Regions from separate parts of the Homo sapiens genome. Here region 1 is linked to region 2. Evidence: fine-mapped expression QTL. A gene starts in region 2. The other region holds a variant in brackets. All regions are shown on one strand. Distances are between the middles of the regions. Region 1 overlaps GABRG3 (gamma-aminobutyric acid type A receptor subunit gamma3). Region 2 holds the start of GABRG3 (gamma-aminobutyric acid type A receptor subunit gamma3).

Region 1 (8,000 bases), 84 kb before region 2:
TGCACACATCCTCTCGAGTTGCAATGGGAGCGGACTGTCATGACTTTCCTTCTGGTAGTGGATGTGCATGGAAACTTCCTTTATTTCTTCATCAGTGGGACTTCTTTGAGGCAAGTAAACATGGCTTTTCTATGTCTCGATTAAATGGCGAATGTCCTGAACTACACCGATTCCACCTGCTGGTATGATAGATTTCCAAAGAATAAGTACGTGGTAAGATTCCCAGACAACAACACCAGTTTTTACTTAGGAAACACCTGAAGGACATGAGCAATGGGAGCCCCGAGGGTGACCTGGCGGCCAGGACACCTCTCTCCATCACAGGTGCCCTCCACAGCCCAGAGGCCTTTCCAGGGGGCTCAGACACGTCTTCTAGGATCGTGCAGCCCCGTAGATGTATAAGGCACAGGAAACTGAGCAGACCTCAAACCACCCCATGACATTCTCTGAAATGTTTTTGTTTTAATAAATCTCAGGCATTGTACTTGTCATTTACCATTTTCTCCTAAAAATCAGAGGCATAAATCACCGTAAGTGTTGATGCCTTCCTGTAAGCTGGTTTCAGAAAACATTCTCTACTGAAACTACAAGAGCAGAAATGGTTTTAATCCCATAAAAATTATGTTCTGTGACTTTTGTCCTGGCCAGATCGGAAAACTTCTTTATTGAAGTTGTCAGCCACAATGGGCACAAGAAGCAGAGGAGTTTCATGTGTGTGAGTTAGGAAGAAAGATCCACCCTTGGAAAAAACCACCAGCTAAAAATCTGATGACCAAAAAAATGGAATCAAGGACTAAAAGCTTCAAGAAGGGGCTGGGGTTAGGGGTTCTGGCCACTGTTGGAAGGTTTATTTCTCCACCTGGACAATGGACATGAGAGCAATGTTTACTCCACACCCTGTCTCTGAATCCTTCCCTTGATAATAAGCAGGGAAGAGTATAGAGTCTGAACAAGAGGAGATAGGAGACAGGGACAATATTTTTCATTAAGGAGGACCCAAGCACACACTGCACACAGAGGAACTAGATGATGAGAAGGTGCTTTTTCCCGATCACAGTCTTGGGTCTCAAGAGAAATCAGTGAAGAATCCAGAATAGTGTGCTGGAGCCATTCTTAAAAAGCTACCCTACAAACGAGTTCCATTTATTGCAGAATAAATCAACAACTTTAATGAAAACGCTCATCCACCACCTCTCCCATCCTCACGTCCACTGGTTTTCTGTTTGCAGTGGAAGCCACCGTGGGGGGTCTTGTGAACTTCCCATTCAGTCTGAGCTTGGAGCACCAACAGCAGGATCTGAGCTCCTTCCGGCGGAGGCTTCTCACAAACGCTCTCCACACACCCCAGTTTCATTCTCCCACCAACACTGGACAACACTTCTCACTTTCTTTCCACAGCTTTTTCCAGCACTGCATGATCACTTTTAGAACATTCTTGCAAATTCTCAGGCTGGTTGTCTGGTGTTAATTTTCATTTCAGGACCTAAAACCATGCCTGACTCAAACAACGGGTTCAATATCTCAATATGTATGTTTATTTTCTTTTTTCTTTTCTTTTTTTTTTTTTTTTTTTTGGAGACAGGGTCTCACTCTGTCAACCAGGCTGGAGTGCAGTGGCACAATCACAGCTCACTGCGGCCTCAGTTCCCCCCAGGCTCAAGTGATCCTCCCACCTCAGCCTCCCAAGTAGCTGGGACTACAGGTGTGTACCACCACACCTGGCTCATTATTTTGCATTTTTTGTAGACATGGGTTTTCTCCATGTTGCCCAGGCTGATCTCGAACTCCTGGACTCAAGTAACCCACCACCTCAGCCTCCCAAAGTGCTAGGATTACAGGCTTGAGCCACTGCACCCAGCCTGTACATTTATTTTCTGTTTGTGACTATTTGTGATTTTTCTCCTCCTGCAAATTTTTAAAAAATATTACCTTGAGTTGATCACTGCAGAATGTATACATGTATCAAAGTGTCACATTGTACCTCATCAATATGTGCATTTATTATTTGCCAATTAAAATAATATAAAACTCTTTAAAAATTAAAAACCATATATTTCCCTAGTATTTCTGGGATGATTTTTTTTTCTCAATGACTTTTGAGAATGCTTTTGCTTTGTTCTCAAACCTTTGATAATCTCCATCATTACTGGTTGGGTATCCCTTATCTGAAATGCATGGGACCAGAAGTGTTTCAGATCTCAGATTATTTCATATTTGAAAATATTTCCATACAGATAATGAAATATCTTAATAATGGAAACCAAGTATAAACAGGAATTCATTTATGTTTCATACACACCTTATGCATGTAGCCTGAAGGTAATTTTATTATTCCTATGGGAACGCTGAAAACACCGTGTGTTCTGCGCCAGCGTTTGACTGTGACCTGCCATGTGAGGTCAGGTGTGGGATTTTCTATTTGTCGCATTAGGTCAGTGCTCACAAAGCTTTGGATTTTGGAGCCTTCTGGATTTCCGATTTTCAGATTTGGGATGCTCCGCCTGTATCTAAGTCTTCCATTATCTCCTTTTGACTTCCTAAATAAATACTTATAACATTAGCAAATAATGATAGCTTTAGAACTAATTTCCCCGAGTTACAGATGTAACAAGTTCAGGTTATTTTTTTGTACTGATTGGTCTTTCCATCCTTCTTAAGATGTTACGGGGTGAAAGCCCGGGACGTGCTAGCAAGCTGCTCCGGTGCGGGACACAGAGTCTCTATCACAGGCTGCTCCGGTGCGGGACGCGGAGCCTCTATCACAGGCTGCTCTGGTGTGGGACACGGAGTCTCTATTACACAGCCTTCTTTTGTTTGGGGGGCTAGTTGTTGTTGCTGCTGCTGCTGTTTTTCACAATCCTTTAAGAATGTAAAGACTATTATTAGCTGACAAGTCATTTAAAAAAAAAAAAAAAAAAAAACAGGTCTTGGCCCTTGGGCTGTAACTTACAAACTTTGCCCAGTTTCACTCTCAGGTTTGACGCTCTTGCTTTGTGGCTGACAACCATTCCACCAAGGGTCCACTCAGAGTCCCCCTCAAAACGAGGACAGTAACTTAGACTTTTGTAGTCGATCTTAATAAAGACAGGTAGTTCCCCGCTGGTCTCAGGGCTTCAGTGTGGTGCACAGCAGCTGTTCCTCCCCGCTCGATACAGAGCTCATCTCACAACCTGAAGCCCCCGGATCTGCTGAGTGTCCTTTCAGAGTAATAGCTGCTTTTGAAGCACCGTCCCTGGCATCAAGACTGATCTGTATCCATTCCATCTGACGGATCTGCAGCTCTGCGTTGTCCTGGCCAGTTTTCTGTATGGGAGTCAGGGCGGCACCACAAAATAAACGGATGCATTTC[C/T]GCCTTTCTTGTAACACTCAGTCAAGTCTTACAGCCTTGGGAATGTTGCTTCTGAAAAACGTGACTTTGGCTCTGGAACCTGTTTTGGAGGAAATTCTTTGATAACTTTTACAGTTTTTTCCAGTGTTGCTTATTTCCTTCTTCCTTGTTTATTTCTATTTTTATTTTAGATTCAGGGGGTACACGTGCAGGTTTGTTCCCTGGATATGTTTCGTGATGCTGAGGTTTGGGCTTTGATCGGTCCCATCTCCCAGGTAGTGAGCACAGAACCCAACAGGCAGTTTTTCAGTCCTTGGCCCCCTCACACCCTCCCTCCTTTTTTCTTTTTTTTTTTCTTTTTGAGATAGAGTTTGGCTCTTTCGCCCAGGCTGGAGTATAGTGGTGCGATCTCGGCTCACTGCAACCTCCGCCTCCCGGGCTCAAGGGATTCTCCCACCTCAGCCTCCTGAGTAGCTGGGATTACAGGTGCGTGCTATTTTTTTTAGTAGAGATGGGGTTTCACCAGGTTAGCCAGGCTGGTCTCGAACTCCTGACCTCAGGTGATCCACCTGCCTTAGTCAAAGTGCAGGGATTAGAGGCGTGAGCCGCCACACCCGGCCCCTCCCTCCTTTTGAAGTCCCCAGTGTCTATTCCCATCTTTATGTCCATGTGTATCCAAAATTTAGCTTCCACTTATAAGTGATGACATGCAGTATTTCATTTTTGTTTCTGCATTAATTCACTTAGGATCACGGCCTCCACCTTCCCATCCATGTAGCTGCAAAGGATATGCCTTCATTCTTTCTTAATGGCTGCGCGGTATTTCACGGTGTATATTTACACATTTTCTTTTTTCTGTCACCATTTATGGGCACTTTGGTTCATTCCATGTCTTTGCTATTGTGAATAGTGGTGCAGTGAACATACAAGTGCATATGTCGTTTTGGTAGAATGATTTATTTTCCACTGGGTATATACTAGGTAATGGGATTGCTAGTTCTGTTTTTACTTCTTTGAGAAATCTCCAAAATGCTCTCCACAATGGCTGAACCAATTTACCTTCTCACCAACAGTGTATAAGTGTTCCATTTTCTCTGCAGCCTCTCCAACCCTGCTGGCTTTTAACTTTTTAGTAATAACTATTCTGACTGGCGTGAGATGGTGTCTCACTGTGGTTTTGATTTGCAATTCTCTGACGGTTAGTGATGTTGAGGATTTTTTCATTTGTTGGTCACTTGTATGTCTTCTTTTGAGAAGTATCTGTCCATGTCCTTTACTCACTTTCTAGTGGGGTTATTTGTTTTTGTTTGTTGATTTAAGTTAGTTATAGATTCTGGACATTAGGCCTCTATTAGAAGCATAGTGAATATTTTCTCCCATTCTGTGGGTTGTTGATAGTTTCTGTTGCTGTACAGAAGTTCTTTAGTTATTTGGTCCCACTGTCAATTTTTGTTTTTGTTGCAATTGCTTTTGAGGACTTAGCCATAAATTCTTTGCCAAGGCCAATATCCAGAAGGGTATTTCCTAGGTTTTCTTCTAGGATTTTGTTATTTTGATGTCTTACATTTAAGCCTTTAATCCGCCTTGAGTTAATTTTTGTATATGGTGATATGTAGGGTCCAGTTTCATTCTTCCGCATGTGGCTAGCCTGTTTTCCCAGCACTATTTACTGAACAGAGAGTCCTTTCCCTATTGCTTATTTTTATCAATTTTATCAAAGATCATCTGGTTGCATGTGTGTTGCTTTATTTCTGGGTTATCTACTCTATTCCACTTGTCCGTATGTCTGTTTTTGTGCCAGTACCATGCTATTTTGGTTAATGTAGTCTTGCAGTATAGTATGAAATTGTGTTTCCCTCTTCTTTTGATCCAGGTTAATCTTTCCCCCAAATTGTCCACTGTATCTAGACTTTTTAAACTATGAGCATAGCTCTACATTAGGTATTTTAATCATCTGCTGATCCATTTGCTGAATCTTCTTGCTCATTTATTTTTGTTTGTCTTGATACTAGATTTCGTGTGTTTTAGAAGCAGCAGGAGGGAAGTGGCCTGCCATCATGCACCCTCACAGGCACTGTGGCACTTCTTTTGTCAAGGAGTTACAGGAGGAATGAAGGGCCTTATGCTTAGATTTTCTGTGATTCTCCAGGCCTAACACTCCACATTGGCCCACAGAATGCCAAGTTTTTCTACCACCTGTGCCACACGCCGAGGCCCCACTGGCCACTGGCTATGGTGCCACCACCTGAGGGCTGAGTCCTTTCTCTGATCTGGTCACCATTTGCGGCACGGGAGTGACAGCACCCCCCCAAGGTGATCAGAGGTGTTGTGATCAACGTAACTCAGCACTCTCAAGAGACAAAGACAGACCAGTCCCCACCAGAAATTTCATGGGGGTGGGACAGAGAACACACCATCCTTCTACCAGACATGGCATTCTTCCTCTTAGATCAGGGGGCCCCAACGCCCGATCTGTGGCCGGGTATCAGTCCAAGGCCTGTCAGGAACTGGGCCACACAGCAGGAGGTGAGAGGCGGGCGAGCAAGAGAAGCTTCATCTGTATTTACAGCCGCTGCCCATCACTCACATTACTGAGCTCCGCCTCCTGTCAGATCAGTGGCAGCATTAGATTCTCACAGGAGCACGAACCCTATTGTGAACTGCACATGCAAGGGATCTAGGTTGCACACTCCTTATGAGAATCTAATGCCTGATGATCTGTCACGTCTCCCATCACCCCCAGATGGGACCATCTAATTGCTAGAAAACAAGCTCAGGGCTCCACTGATTCTACATGATGGTGAGTTGTATAAGTTGTATAATTATTTCACTGTATATTACAATATAATAGTAATAGAAGTAGACTGCACAATAAATGTAATGCACTTGAATCATCCTGAAACCCCCAGCCCTGGTCCGTGGAAAAACTGTCTTCCATGAAACCGGTCCCTGGTGCCAAAAAGGTTGGGGACTACTGTCTTAGATGGTATCTTCCTGCTGTGTCCCCACACAGAGGAAGGGACAAGAGTTATCTGAGGTCCCTTTTATAAAGTCACTAATCCCATGTGTGGGGCCTCCACCCTCATGACTTAATCCCCTTCCCAAAGGACACACCTCCTAATATCACCACCTTGGGAGTTAGGATTTCAACAGATGCATTTTGGGGGAGACACAAAATTCAGTCCACAACATATACTATTCATCAAAATGTGTATCCATTATAAACAATGGCTAATTCACTATAGTTTATCTTCTGGATGGACATTGATGGATAGATGCATTTTGGAGGGACATAACCTCAATAAAAAAAATAAAATCAATAAAACAGCATTTCTTCTGAGATTCTAAATTGCCAGTAAATTTAGGTCAGGTCTAATCATTACCTAAAATGACTGAAAACAGGAGAGTCAACAATTGTAGCTTGTCTAGATTTTTTCCCTTTGGAATGAAAGTCTATAGAATTTAAGGCAAATGTAAAAAACAACTGCACTATGGTCATCTAATAAATACAAAGAATTTGTGGTCTGAGTCCTATTGCCTCAATTTATCTGGTTACACCTAGCATTGTATGACTTTTATGTGCTACAGCTAACAGCAGTATAAATTTGACCATATTTGGATCATTTTCCTCTTACCATATAAAATGGATAAATCTCTTCCTCTCATGAGTTTAAAAACTACATAATTTGCAATAGCAGGACCATGATATTAAACATCATATTATAAGCAAAATATGTACAGCTATTGGTAATAAATTGTAATGCTTAATATATAGTAATCAGTGGTAATACTGTATGACTACTATAAGTAATTTCCTTGTAATTACAGATAATTAGTCTATAACTTAAGAAATAGTTAATAATATTATAATTAAATTTAAAAAGTTTATAAAAATAACTTATTGTCATCCACTTGGAAATAAAACACCCAAGAATAAAAACAGCCCCCTCCAGAAGTCTGAATCTTAATAACTCAGCTGCTTCTACATTACTGAGTTTAGGTATTCGAGGAAATCTTGTTCTCCTGGGCAAATAAGGGCTTTACAGCTTTACTGGTAGTAAAACCCAGAGATCCTCCTAAGATCCCCTGAGATGCTATCTTATCCTAGGAACAGCAGGACGAAGGGCAAGGCAATGGTGTGTGGCTGCCCTGCCACCTCCCAGGTGAAGGGAGTTGGCTGGAGACCTGAACAGCCCTGCTGTGCCTGCGAGAAAGGGACAGTAATTTCACCCACCCTCGGGAAGCAGGGGAGAATGCAGTTTGGGGTCACCAGGGGGCCCCAGGGACAGAGTTTCAGGCATGAGCACAGAAGAAGGAGGAAACAGCTCAAAGCAAATGCCTTCCTTCATACAGGAAGTAAAATATTGTGTCTTTTCCCTACGGCTAATCTCTTTGTGTGTCATCAAAGAACATGTGGAGACTATCTCAGTCCATGCCCAATATAGAGACTAAATCTCACTTTAGAATCTGCATATACATAGGTATCAGAACGGGATGTACCAGAGATTAAATTTAAATCTTCTTCCTCTACCAAAAAGCTGTGTGTTTCCTCTCTGCTTTTGGAAAGGCCCGTCTCAGAACAGAATAGAGAAACCCACTTATTATAGGTCTTATTCAACATATTTCAGACAACATCACAGGCATTTGATGTATTATCTAATTAATCCACAAT
Region 2 (11,204 bases):
GAAACTATAAATTGCTGTTGATTTTTATGCACATTGGATATTCACGATCGATAGGAATTTTTAAATGTGGGGCACCTATTCAGTAAGGAATATGTTGCATTTCATTATTTATTAAAGTGAACATTTACAAGTAATACTACAGAATTTTAAATGTTACTCTAAAATATTTCATGTCATCTGGCCGGGCATGGTTGTTCACGCCTGTAATCCCAACACTTTGGGAAGCCAAGGCGGGTGGGTCATCTGAGGTCAGGAGTTCCAGACCAGCCTGGCCAACAGGGTGAAACCCCGTCTCTACTAAAAATACAAAAAAAATTAGCGGGGCATGGTGGCACATGCCTGTAGTCCTGGCTATTCAGGAGGCTGAGGCAAGAGAATTGCTTGAACCCAGGAGGCAGAGGTTGCAGTGAGCCGAGATAGTGTCACTGCACTCCAGCCTGGGCAACAGAGCGAGACTCCATCTCAAATAATAATAATAATAATAATAATAATAATAATAATAATAATAATAAATTTAAAAAATATTTCGTGTCATCTGAAATATTATCAGAAATGTTAATTTTATCATCTTGCAAAAATTTTTTAAAACTTAAAGAGCAGGTTGAAGCATTTAGATAGCTGGGAATCAAGCACTGCCCACGGGACAGGGCAAATCACTCCACAGCAAGGGCATCTGGGGCAGTGAGGAGAGGCCGGTAGCTCATCTCAGCAGAATCAGGCACAACATGCTCAGGACACTTGGCGACTCAGCCCAGGTGCCTTCCTCCCTCCCTCTGCTGTCTCTGTCTTGGGCACTGTGAGGGGGTCTGCCTCACTCTTCTTCCCCTCCCCTCCCGTTCTCCTCCCCTCTCCTACCCCCACCACTACAGAGCCAGACCACAGCCTCCACCCTGTGTTATTGTCTATGGCCCTGATAATCACATACACACAAACCGAGCACAGTAACCAGCTTTTCATCATTCTCTATATACGCAGCCTTAGTTTTTAAAAATTACTTCCAGCTACTTACAGGTATTGTAATAAGCCTAATTCTCCCTCTAGTGGTGATGAGAGGGTTTTCCTGAAATTGCAAGCGCTTCCTCCTTAGAGGCCAGGACAGGTGGCAGTGAGGGGGACCAAGAAAAAGAAAGCAGGAACGTTCTCTTCCACCCCTTTGGGAGGCATATCAGGGCCCCAGCTGTGTAGCCTGGTTGGGTAGGCAGTGGGCAGAGTGAGGCCGAGATGCTCTAGGTCCCTGGGCAGTGAGCACCCTTCTCCCTCAAATCCTGAAAATGAAATAGAAGCCTCACATTGCTAGTGCCAGACCACCAGGCCCACAGGAAAATCCTTGCTTTGACAAAAATGAAATCTCATCTCAGGGGACCCATTAGAATGTGGATAATATAGAAATATTCTCTTTTCCCTAAATTCTAAGTAAGTTATATATAATCTTTATGAGCACTGTTACTTGCATTGTTGGATCCTAAACACCATTACTGAAATTAGCTTTTCCTTAAAAATAAATCAGTGATGTATTGTCATAGTCAAACAACAACTCAACCTTCAGATGTTATTTTCATGTCTTACACCTTAGCTTAAAGCGGAAGGACAGAGAAAAAGTCTGAAGTATTTTTAAGCATTAAAAGGAGTTCCTAAACCTCAGAAAGCAGTTAAGGCATCACCAAGGTCTGAGTGGGAATCAGTGCGTTTTATGATGCCCATGGGTGTCAAAATGGGGAGTCCCCCCTTCTGGGGAGCTGCTGAGCCATCACCACAAAGCACAGCCATCAGACCCTTATCCAAGGAACTTCCACAGCAGGAAGGGACTCAGAGTGCAAATGAGAAACCCCTCCAAATTTAAAACAGTTTTGAAAGATGACACTGCACATCAGATTATTTCACATGTCTGTAAAACCCATTCAGAGAACAAAGACACTCTCAAAGAAGAGGCATATAGCAATAAAGTTAGTATAAAATTTGGATTTTTTAACTGATCTGCAAGCTCTATTATGAAAGCTGGGGAACGAGCCCAAATAGAGAACAAATGAAAATCATTATGTCTGTCTTAGTAGAATGGAAGGATGAAGAATCCCAAGAGATTTTGTGTATATTTGGGAATCCCCAGTAACCGGACTGTTTTAAGGCAGAGGCTGAGGTATCTTCCTACTAAGCACATGCAGTAGTGAGGACAATAGGCAGTGTTTCTTCTAGAATGTTAAGAATCCAGAGACCTAAACAGTTGATTACTGAACCCTGAACGGCTGGTCACTCGTTTGAGTTGGTGGCAATAGAAAGGTGGCAGAGATGTGACTGCCGGCCTCAGCGTTATGCCCGGTGCTGTCTGCCTCCCTCTCCATCTCTAAACAGAGATACAACCAGGAAGAAGCAACCTCAGAAAGCATGTTTCCATTGCTTGCACCAGCTGCCTCTTGAGACAGAAAGAAACTTCAGCTGAAAGGCCCAAGGAGTGCTCTGTCTCTTTGAAAGAGTTGCCTGTGAGTCACCGGTGGAGTCGGCTTCCACACTCAACTCAGCAAAGAGGAGCAGTTGCAAGGGGGAGGGCCAGGGCTTCCTTCCTCAGGGTAAGCACCCCTGCCCAATTCAGGAGTGAGAACTGGGGGCCCCCTTCATGTTTAGTAGGATTTATTCATGTGTCTTCCTAGCTCCTTGGTAGTTCACAAATAGGAATGAAAAGGCAAGGCCTCCTGGCATTGCCTCCTGATGGTGGCCAGGCTTGTGCACGCAAGGATGCCCTCTGATTCTCTAGCTCCCAGACCCAGGAAATGGAGAAGCGTCAAAACAAGAGGGTTTGGGGGATAGGGGCACGCTGAGCTTCCTAGGGTGGGGAAAGAGGTAAAGGCCAGACACTGCTCCAATTTTCAAATAACAGGACAGTCTGCAAGCTCTAGCCAGAAATCCAGCCAGAGAGACAGAATTAAAGAAACTAAACCCAGAATCTCCAGTTGTGTTTACAGCAACAGGATTTAACCCTTTGGGTCCCACTGTCCTTGTATCCTCATGCGCCCTCTTCATCTCTTCTAGAGTGATTCTAAGCTCCCATTAGCCGGTTGGTGTACTGGGAGGAAGGTTGCGGAATTTATGGTGAGATGATTTCTTACATTACCAGGCAGAAGCCTTATTATCCATTTCGACATGCGTGCTTTATGGGGGTGGGAGTGCGTGTGTTCCTCTGTGTGAAAGTGGCTGATGTGGAAGGTGTGTGTGTGTGTTTGCAGGACCTGGGAGGGGAGTCCTCCCAGACAAGCAGGGCTTTCTTCTGCCCACCTGGTTCCAATCCCCCCGCGCCTGCCTCCAATGCATTAGCTCTTTCCAGCCCGGTCTAAACTAGGCAGTTAGAACCACGGTTCCCGGGTTCTTGGAAATTTCAGAGTGATGGAAATGACAGAGAATGTCAGCCAAAGTGTGTGTGTGTGTGAGCCCCTGAAACAGCTGAGGTGGGAATTAGGGGTCGGTAAGGAGCCAGAAATGGCCCCTGCCCCCTGAACCTGGTTCTCAAAACCCCTTAAAACCACCAGATCCTAAAAGCGTCAGGAGACGAGCCCATTAATCTGAGTCCCCACACTCCCGGCTGCAGAGGAAAAAGCAGATGACCGTGTCCAAGGGAGCTGGGACAGGTGAGGTGCAGACCGACTTCCCAGTCCCCTCCCGGCCCGCCGTGCCGCAGCCCAGCCGACGGCTGGCGCGCCAGGGACTCCAGCAGACAGCGCCCCCCGCCGCCCTGTCGCCCAGCTCGGGGCCTCCGGGGATGCGGCCCCCGCGCCACTTACCGCGCGTGCAAGCCCGAGAACAGGCAGAGGAGGAGCAGCAGCTTCGGGGCCATGGTGCCGTGGAGCTCGGGGCGCAGGGTCCGGGGCCTCGGCCGGGCGCGGCTTCCTCCGGCGCGGACCTGGTCTCCGCCGGCCCTCTTTGCCCTGGCTTCCTCCGAGGCTGCTGGCCGCGGCGGGCGGGACAGGTATCTACTCTGGCGCTGGCCGCGCCCCCGCGGGGCGCACACTGGACGCACACGGGACGCCGGGCCACCGCGGCGCGCCGCCCCCACCCGCGCACTAGCGCCGGTCCGCGCAACCGGGCGGCGGGAGCAATGGGCGCCGGGGACCCCCTGGCGCGGCGCCGCCCACCCCGCCTGGAGCCGCGAGCGGGCGCGGGTGCCCAGGCCGGGGCTGTGTGCGCTGTGCTGGGAGGTGGGGGCAGCTGGGCGGCTGTCCCCTGGCAGCGCCTCCGAGGCGGTCCCGGCGGGGAGGAGTTTCCCCAATTACACGCCTGACAACGCGCAGGGCGAGGAAGGCGAGGTTTGAATGGACTCGGAGTTTGAGGCCAGGAAGGGGGCGGAGCTCCGAGGGGGAGGGGAGGCTGGGGATCCCGCAGGGAGCCTGAAGAAAGGTCCCCGGGGTTGGCACCATGAGAGCGAGCCCGCGGTCCGCCTTCCTCCAGCCATTTCTACCCCAGTGCAGGTTTCCTCCAGCGCTCCCTGACCTCCCGTGCCCGCCGTCGCCCGGGGTTGAGACGGTTTGCCAAAAGCAGCCCTTCCATCGCACTCTTCGTGCTAAGTCGGCTGAACTCCTAGGCACTGATAAGATTCTGTGCTTGGAAAGGTGGCTTTCTGCGGGAATATTTGGGAAAAAAGCACCCCAGATTTATGCCTTTCTTACAGAAAAGAGAGACTAACACATAGCAATAAACAGTAGAGGTGGAAAGGCATGTTAAAGGTAGGAGCTAGAAAGATCCTAAGGCAAGAAGCCAAAGACGTTCCGTTTGGTGGAAGCATGAGGTGCGCCTCATTCCATGTATTTTCATATTCCAAAAACCGAAAATGGCATTTACGCTTTCATTTGTCATAATCATTCAGAAAGTTAGTCTTGCACCATGTAAGTATTGCAATCGCAACAGTGTAGTAAATCCACTAGGAATTTTACATTTCTATCACCCCCAAAAAGTTCTTAGAAAATGTTTTATAACTGCTATTCATAGAATTATGTAAGGGTGTGATAACTGTTTCTTTAATATTGTCAAATAGCTTTGTTCGGCCAGGCACAGTGGCCCAAGCCGGTAACCCCGGCACTTTGGGAGTCCGAGGCAGGCGGATCACTTGACCCCAGGAGTTCGAGACCAGCCTAGGCAATGTGCAAAAACCCTGTCTCTACAAAAAATAGTAAAGAATTAGCTGGGCATGGTGGCATGGGCCTGTATTCCTCTGGTGTGTTCCCCCTTGTTTCTGGATAGGCATGAAGTGGAGGGGAGTGCAGTTGTTAATGACAATATTGTTTTTCAACAATGGAGCTGTCATCTCCCTGGCATCACCTTTCTGTCTCTGTGAGGTGCTGAACTCACCCAGCTCCCCGCCTTTCCAGGACTCTTTCTGGCATTCTCATCCTCCTCTGCCCAGCACATCCCTCCTACTTAGGTGCACATGCCCTATAAGGTCCCCTCTTTGATGAAGACTCTGACGCTCCTGCATTCTTCCACTTCCAACACCTGTACCACTCCTTTAGGCTTCAGGGGAATATGAGCCTTTATCATACTCTGCCCTAATCTCTAATTTTCTGTACCAAAATCTGAGCACTTTAAAAATCAGTTAGATGATGATTTATTGTTCCTTCATTGCTTATGTCGTCTCCACATAAGAGACTTGAGTCTCACTCTATCGCCCAGGCTGGAGTGCAGTAGTGTCATCTGGACTCACTGCAATCTCCACCTCCCGGGTTCAAGTGATTCTCGTGCCTCATCCTCCTGAGTAGCTGGGATTACAGGCACCCACCACCACGCCTGGCTAATTTTTGTATTTTTAGTAAAGATGGGGTTTCACCATGTTGGCCAGGCTCTTCTGCAACTCCTGACTTCAAGTAATCTGCTCGCCTCGGCCTCCCAAAGTGCTGAGATTACAGGCATGAGCCACCACGCCTGAGTGTGCTGCAAGAATGCTGCAAGTAGAAACAATTCTTTTGTGTTTCCCTTCTTAACACAGTAATAGGAACATAAGTAAAAATAACCATCTGACATTGATCACATAACAGGGGCCAGGGCCGACAGGAAGGCTTTACATTGATTAACTCATTTTAACTCTCACAACATTATTTCCGTTTCGCATATAGAGAAAAAGCACAGAGAAGTTAAGTCGCTTACCCCAGGATCACACAGCTAGTAGGTGAGGACTGGGGGTTAAAAGCCAGGCAGCTGGCTCCAATGTTTCATTCCTAATCACTATACCATACTGTCTGCCTGAGTAGGTGCTCAGCTGACATTTGTTGTTGGGCTAGTTGATGAAAGTTTTGGACTTCTTACCATATTATTTATTTTTTGAGCATGAGTTAAAATACTCACAAGTTGTTTATAATAGAAATAGACTGTTACTTGAGTGATTTTGTAAAATATCAGTAAACAAGAAGTGTCCTGAGATTTGTTTGTTGTTATTATTTTTTTTACAATTCAATCAGTGAACAAGAAAACGCAATACTGTTTTTACATCCCTGTGTTCTTTATTCTTTTCCTTTCTTGCATATTTCAACGTGCTATTATGAATGAATGCAAGATGATCCCCTCTGGCCTTTGGAATGCTTCGCTTCATTTATTAGATTGAGTAGGTCAACTTGATACGTCTGAACATTTTCTCTTGGAAAGCCCCTCCCCTCTTCCTGGAACGAGATTTTGTTTTTTAAAGCTAAATGAGCTGAAAGGTTGGGGAAAAATCAAAGCAAGCTTTCTAGGCGTTAAGTGTGAAAGCAAAATGCAAGGTTAAGAATCTTCAAAGGGGCCGGGCGCGGTGGCTCACGCCTGTAATCCCAGCACTTTGGGAGGCCGAGGCGGGTGGATCATGAGGTCAGGAGATCGAGACCATCCTGGCTAACAAGGTGAAACCCCGTCTCTACTAAAAATACAAAAAATTAGCCGGGCGCGGTGGCGGGCGCCTGTAGTCCCAGCTACTCGGGAGGCTGAGGCAGGAGAATGGCGTGAACCCGGGAAGCGGAGCTTGCAGTGAGCCGAGATTGCGCCACTGCAGTCCGCAGTCCAGCCTGGGCGACAGAGCGAGACTCCGTCTCAAAAAAAAAAAAAAAAAAAAAAAAAGAATCTTCAAAGGAGAAGCCACAGGCTTTCATGTCTCTCCCTTGCCCCGGTTGACCTGCGGGGATGCTCTGCGGAGCATGCGCAGTGCGCACTCTCCAAGCCGCCTCAGCCTCTCCATTTTCAGCCCTGGAGAAGCGGGCGGGATTTACACTTTCTCCCCCTAGCTCGCGGGAATAGAAAGGGAAATAAAAAGTAAGTGAAAGCGAGCGCCACCAGAAGACTGGCTCTTAGTCCTAAGAGGTTAGGGTAACGAATCGGTTCTCACAACCGAAGCGCAGACGTGGCGGTAATGACGGAACAGCTCCAGCCTGGCGCGCTGCTTTGCTCCTGGCTTGGCGCTGGGTCCTCGGCTCCGGAGGTTCTGGGGAAGACCTGGGCTGCCCGCGCAGCTGCGGGTTGGACTTCACCTCGGCGGGGGCGGCGGGACCCTAGCAGCGTTGCCAGGAAGCGCCTTTCAGATCCCGCGGTGGCGCGCTGCGCCCCGCAGGCCGCGGAACCACCCCGCTGCCCACGCGCCCTTCAGCGCGCATCCGCTGCTCCGTGGTTGCCCCAGGTTCTGCTTTGAGAAACATCTCTCCCACTCCCAAAACTGTACTTCTGGGTTACATGATGTTTCGTGGTTTTATATTTTGAAAAAGCGCCTTTCCCTTGTCAATCAAAACGGTACTATCAAGGGATAATGCACACACAACAAAAATGCACCGATCTTAAAAGTATGGCTCAGTGAACTATTTCGCATGTGTATACCATATGTATATGAATAGCATATGTATAGCATCTGGATTATTATATATAACAAATATATAATTATGTAATTCCCAGTGGCTGGGCCATCTTCAAGTCAGTGCCGACACTGGGTAACCAACTATTCAGGCTTTGGCCACAGAAGCCTGGTTTTGCCCAGTCTTGCACCTCGCATACATGTGGTCATGCAGTATTATCCACTTAGCCTCCGGCTTCTCTCACTCAGTGCAGTGTCTGTGAGATGTACCCTTATTGCTACATTACCAGTCATTCATTACTTTTTACTGCTGTGCATGATAGTTCATTGTGTGAATACACCACACGTTATTTATTTGTTCCTATGCCAATGGATTTTTGGGTTTGAAACTTTGGGATGTTATGAATAAAGCTAACATGAATATTCTTGTCTTTTGATGGACATATGTGTTCATTTCTCTTGGTTATCTGACTGAAAATAGAATGTCCAGATCACAAGGAAGGCATGTGTTTCATGATTATAAATATTACTACAGAGATTTCTAAAGCAGTTATATTCATCACGCATTGGCAATATATGAGTTCTGGTGTATACCCTTGATGAAATGTGGCCTTGCCATTATTTTTGTCACCATTCTGATATTTCTTTTTTTTTTTTTTCTATTAGACGGAGTCTCGCTCTGTCACCAGGCTGGAGTGCAGTGGCGCGATCCCGGCTCACTGCAACCTCTGCCTCCCGGGTTCGAGCAATCCTCCTGCCTCAGCCTCCCGAGTAGCTGTGACTACAGGCGCACATCACCACACCCAGCTAATTTTTTTGTATTTTTAATAGAGACGGGGTTTCATCATATTGGCCAGGATGGTCTTGATCTCTTGACCTCCGTGATCCACCACCTCGGCCCTCCCAAAGTGCTGGGATTACAGGCATGAGCCACCGCGCCTGGCCTGCCATTCTGGTATTTCATTCTGGTTTTGATTTCATAGAACTTCTTTCAAATTTTTACCAGCCATTGGAATATCTTCTTTTATGAAGTGTCATTTAAGTCTTTTGCCCATTTTAAAACTAGACTGTTGGCTTTCTTTTTATTTGTAGAAGCTCTTTTGTGTTTTCATATTTTTTTGTTTACCATTACATCTATTGCTTTAATAAATACCACCAATATTATACAAATATATGATTTACAATATCCCTATTATAGCAAAGAATAGAGTCATAAAATAAAATGTCTTTTAGGCATTTATTATGCCACGCATGCAAATTATTGTTCTCATTATGACATAAGAATAATACTCTTTTGGTGACAAAAGATATATTGTATTAGCTCAAAGTCCACTGAAGAGCTTCCAGGAAGTTCTAAATTAAAATCTGGCCATGTTTTCTATACAATAAACAGAACAGCAACAACCTCTGCTATCCCTTAAGCATAAACTATCCCTTTACATAAACTTAAGTAAATGGCTTGTTACGAATAAAAATAAATAACATTTTAGAAACTAGTTAACATCACTGGCCCAAATGTGGTTTTTACTTTCTTGCGTATGTCTAAGAAATGTCAACGTGAAGTATATATTAAAAATTAACAATAATTTCTAAGGTATACATGAGCCAAGCTGCTCACTCTTACTGTGGAAGCAAAACTTACTTCGGAAAGTAATATACAGAAGTAATATGTAAACATATAGAGCTTGAGATAGACTAAGAACATCCTTCTGTGTTCTATGGACCAAAATACAAAGGTCTCCATTACATATGTAAATGAACACACTTTCATTAGTTTGGGATATATTGATATGACATGACTGTGTGCATATTTTATGTACACCATAAAACAAATGTTGACAATGTCTTCAGTGACAACATGCATTCTAGCCCCAACTACTGGAAAGGATATAAAAACTTAATAAGAAAACTACTTTGCTTTGCTTTAACTAAAGATTTTAAGTGAAAAACAAAGCCAACATTCCTTGTTGCATCATGGACCGAGGTCTAAAATGTTCAGAGTCAACAATCTCTGTTTGCTCCCCACTGTAACAAAGCACATAAGCATTCTCTCTCTGTTCACAAAGTCTGATCATCCTCAGTGTTTTGTCTTAAAAACTGCTTTCCAAGTATGAGGGACCCATGCTGGTTACATTCTTTCCGTTGCCTATTTACACCTGATGTAGCCATATAGGTTGGCACCTTGTAGCACCACACTCATGATAACCACTGCTAACCACTTTACCCTGAAGGAGATGAGGCCACTAAAGATAAATATCACCCACAGCACTGGACAGGCATTAAGTCCCAACCAAAAGATTTGATTCAGCCTCTGAGACAGTTTTGTCCTCCCGAGAGGATGCCTTTCTGGACTCAAGCACCCAATGGCTCTTTCCATCTTCATCATGTGATTCCAACACCGTAGACCCACCACTAGTCTACCTGTGACATTCGTCACTGCCCTAAAGTCACATGACAAGATAGTTGTCACCATACAAGCAGTAAAGCTGCTGCTGACCAATTTGCAAAGAAGGTAGACCACAATTGCACAGACTTGAAAGAATAGCTGGAAACGTGAGGCCACTGGATATCTGATTTTGGATTGTTTTGTTTTGTTATTGTCTCTTCCACATCCAACACTGAAATGTCTTCAGTGTCATCATTACTGTACTGATGCAACATGGTAGCCCTGTGCCGGCCCCCTAATATCACATTTAAAAAATTACTATGGCCTTTCATTTTCTTAATATCTATTATTGTTAGTGCTCTGAATTTGTTCATTTATTTGTTTACTTATTGCTGTTCTAGGTTGTTTGCATCTCCGTATACATCAGCTTTTAAATTTTCCCCCAATTTTTAAAACTGTTCTCTTGGAAGTATTCACAAGTTTACAAATAAATGTGTAAAAATAATACTATAAGTTTCTATAATATTATCTAATCTACAGTACATAGACTAATTTTTCTAACTGATCTAATAATACCTTCAATAGCATTTTTCCCATATAGCCCAGGAACCCATTCAGGATCACACATTTCACTAGTTATTGTGTCCACTTGGTCTGTTTTTAGTCCAGAACAGGTTGTGGCCATTCTTGATCTTTCACAACACAGTAGTTTCAGTAGACAAAAGTATTTTGTAGAATGTACCTCTGTGTGAGTCTTTCTCATGATCAGATTCAGGTTATGTATTTTGGGAAGAAATATGACATAAGTAATGTTGCTTTTCTTGATGCGTTATTGTAGGAAACACACGATGTTGGTTTATCTCATTGTGGATCACACTGATCACTTAGTCAAGCTGTTATCTGCCAGGTTTCTCCACTTTAAAGTTCCTTCTTTTTCTTTCTGAATGGCTGACTGTTCTTTGGGGGAAATTATTTGAAAATGTTTAACTACCTTAGTTTTAACATGCATTGATGATTCTTGCTTGCTGCTTGTAAAAT

What was found.
Region 1: its variant is fine-mapped to the expression of GABRG3 in spleen (GTEx, PIP 0.95).

The regions. Positions count from the first base shown.
Region 1 is chr15:27,049,928-27,057,927 of GRCh38, reverse strand. All of the region lies in intron 3 of GABRG3 (gamma-aminobutyric acid type A receptor subunit gamma3), which reads right to left. All of the region lies in intron 2 of LOC124903449 (a long non-coding RNA gene), which reads left to right. Among named protein-coding and RNA genes, the nearest start is that of GABRG3, 83 kb to the right of the region's middle. RefSeq lists enhancers at 1-236, 5,115-5,614. The variant C/T (reference allele first, on the strand shown) is at 3,350.
Region 2 is chr15:26,964,152-26,975,355 of GRCh38, reverse strand. GABRG3 (gamma-aminobutyric acid type A receptor subunit gamma3) reads right to left here and starts at 4,175. Exons shown (of 10, transcript NM_033223.5): 1 at 3,768-4,175. The coding sequence starts at 3,820. It also overlaps the pseudogene TVP23BP1.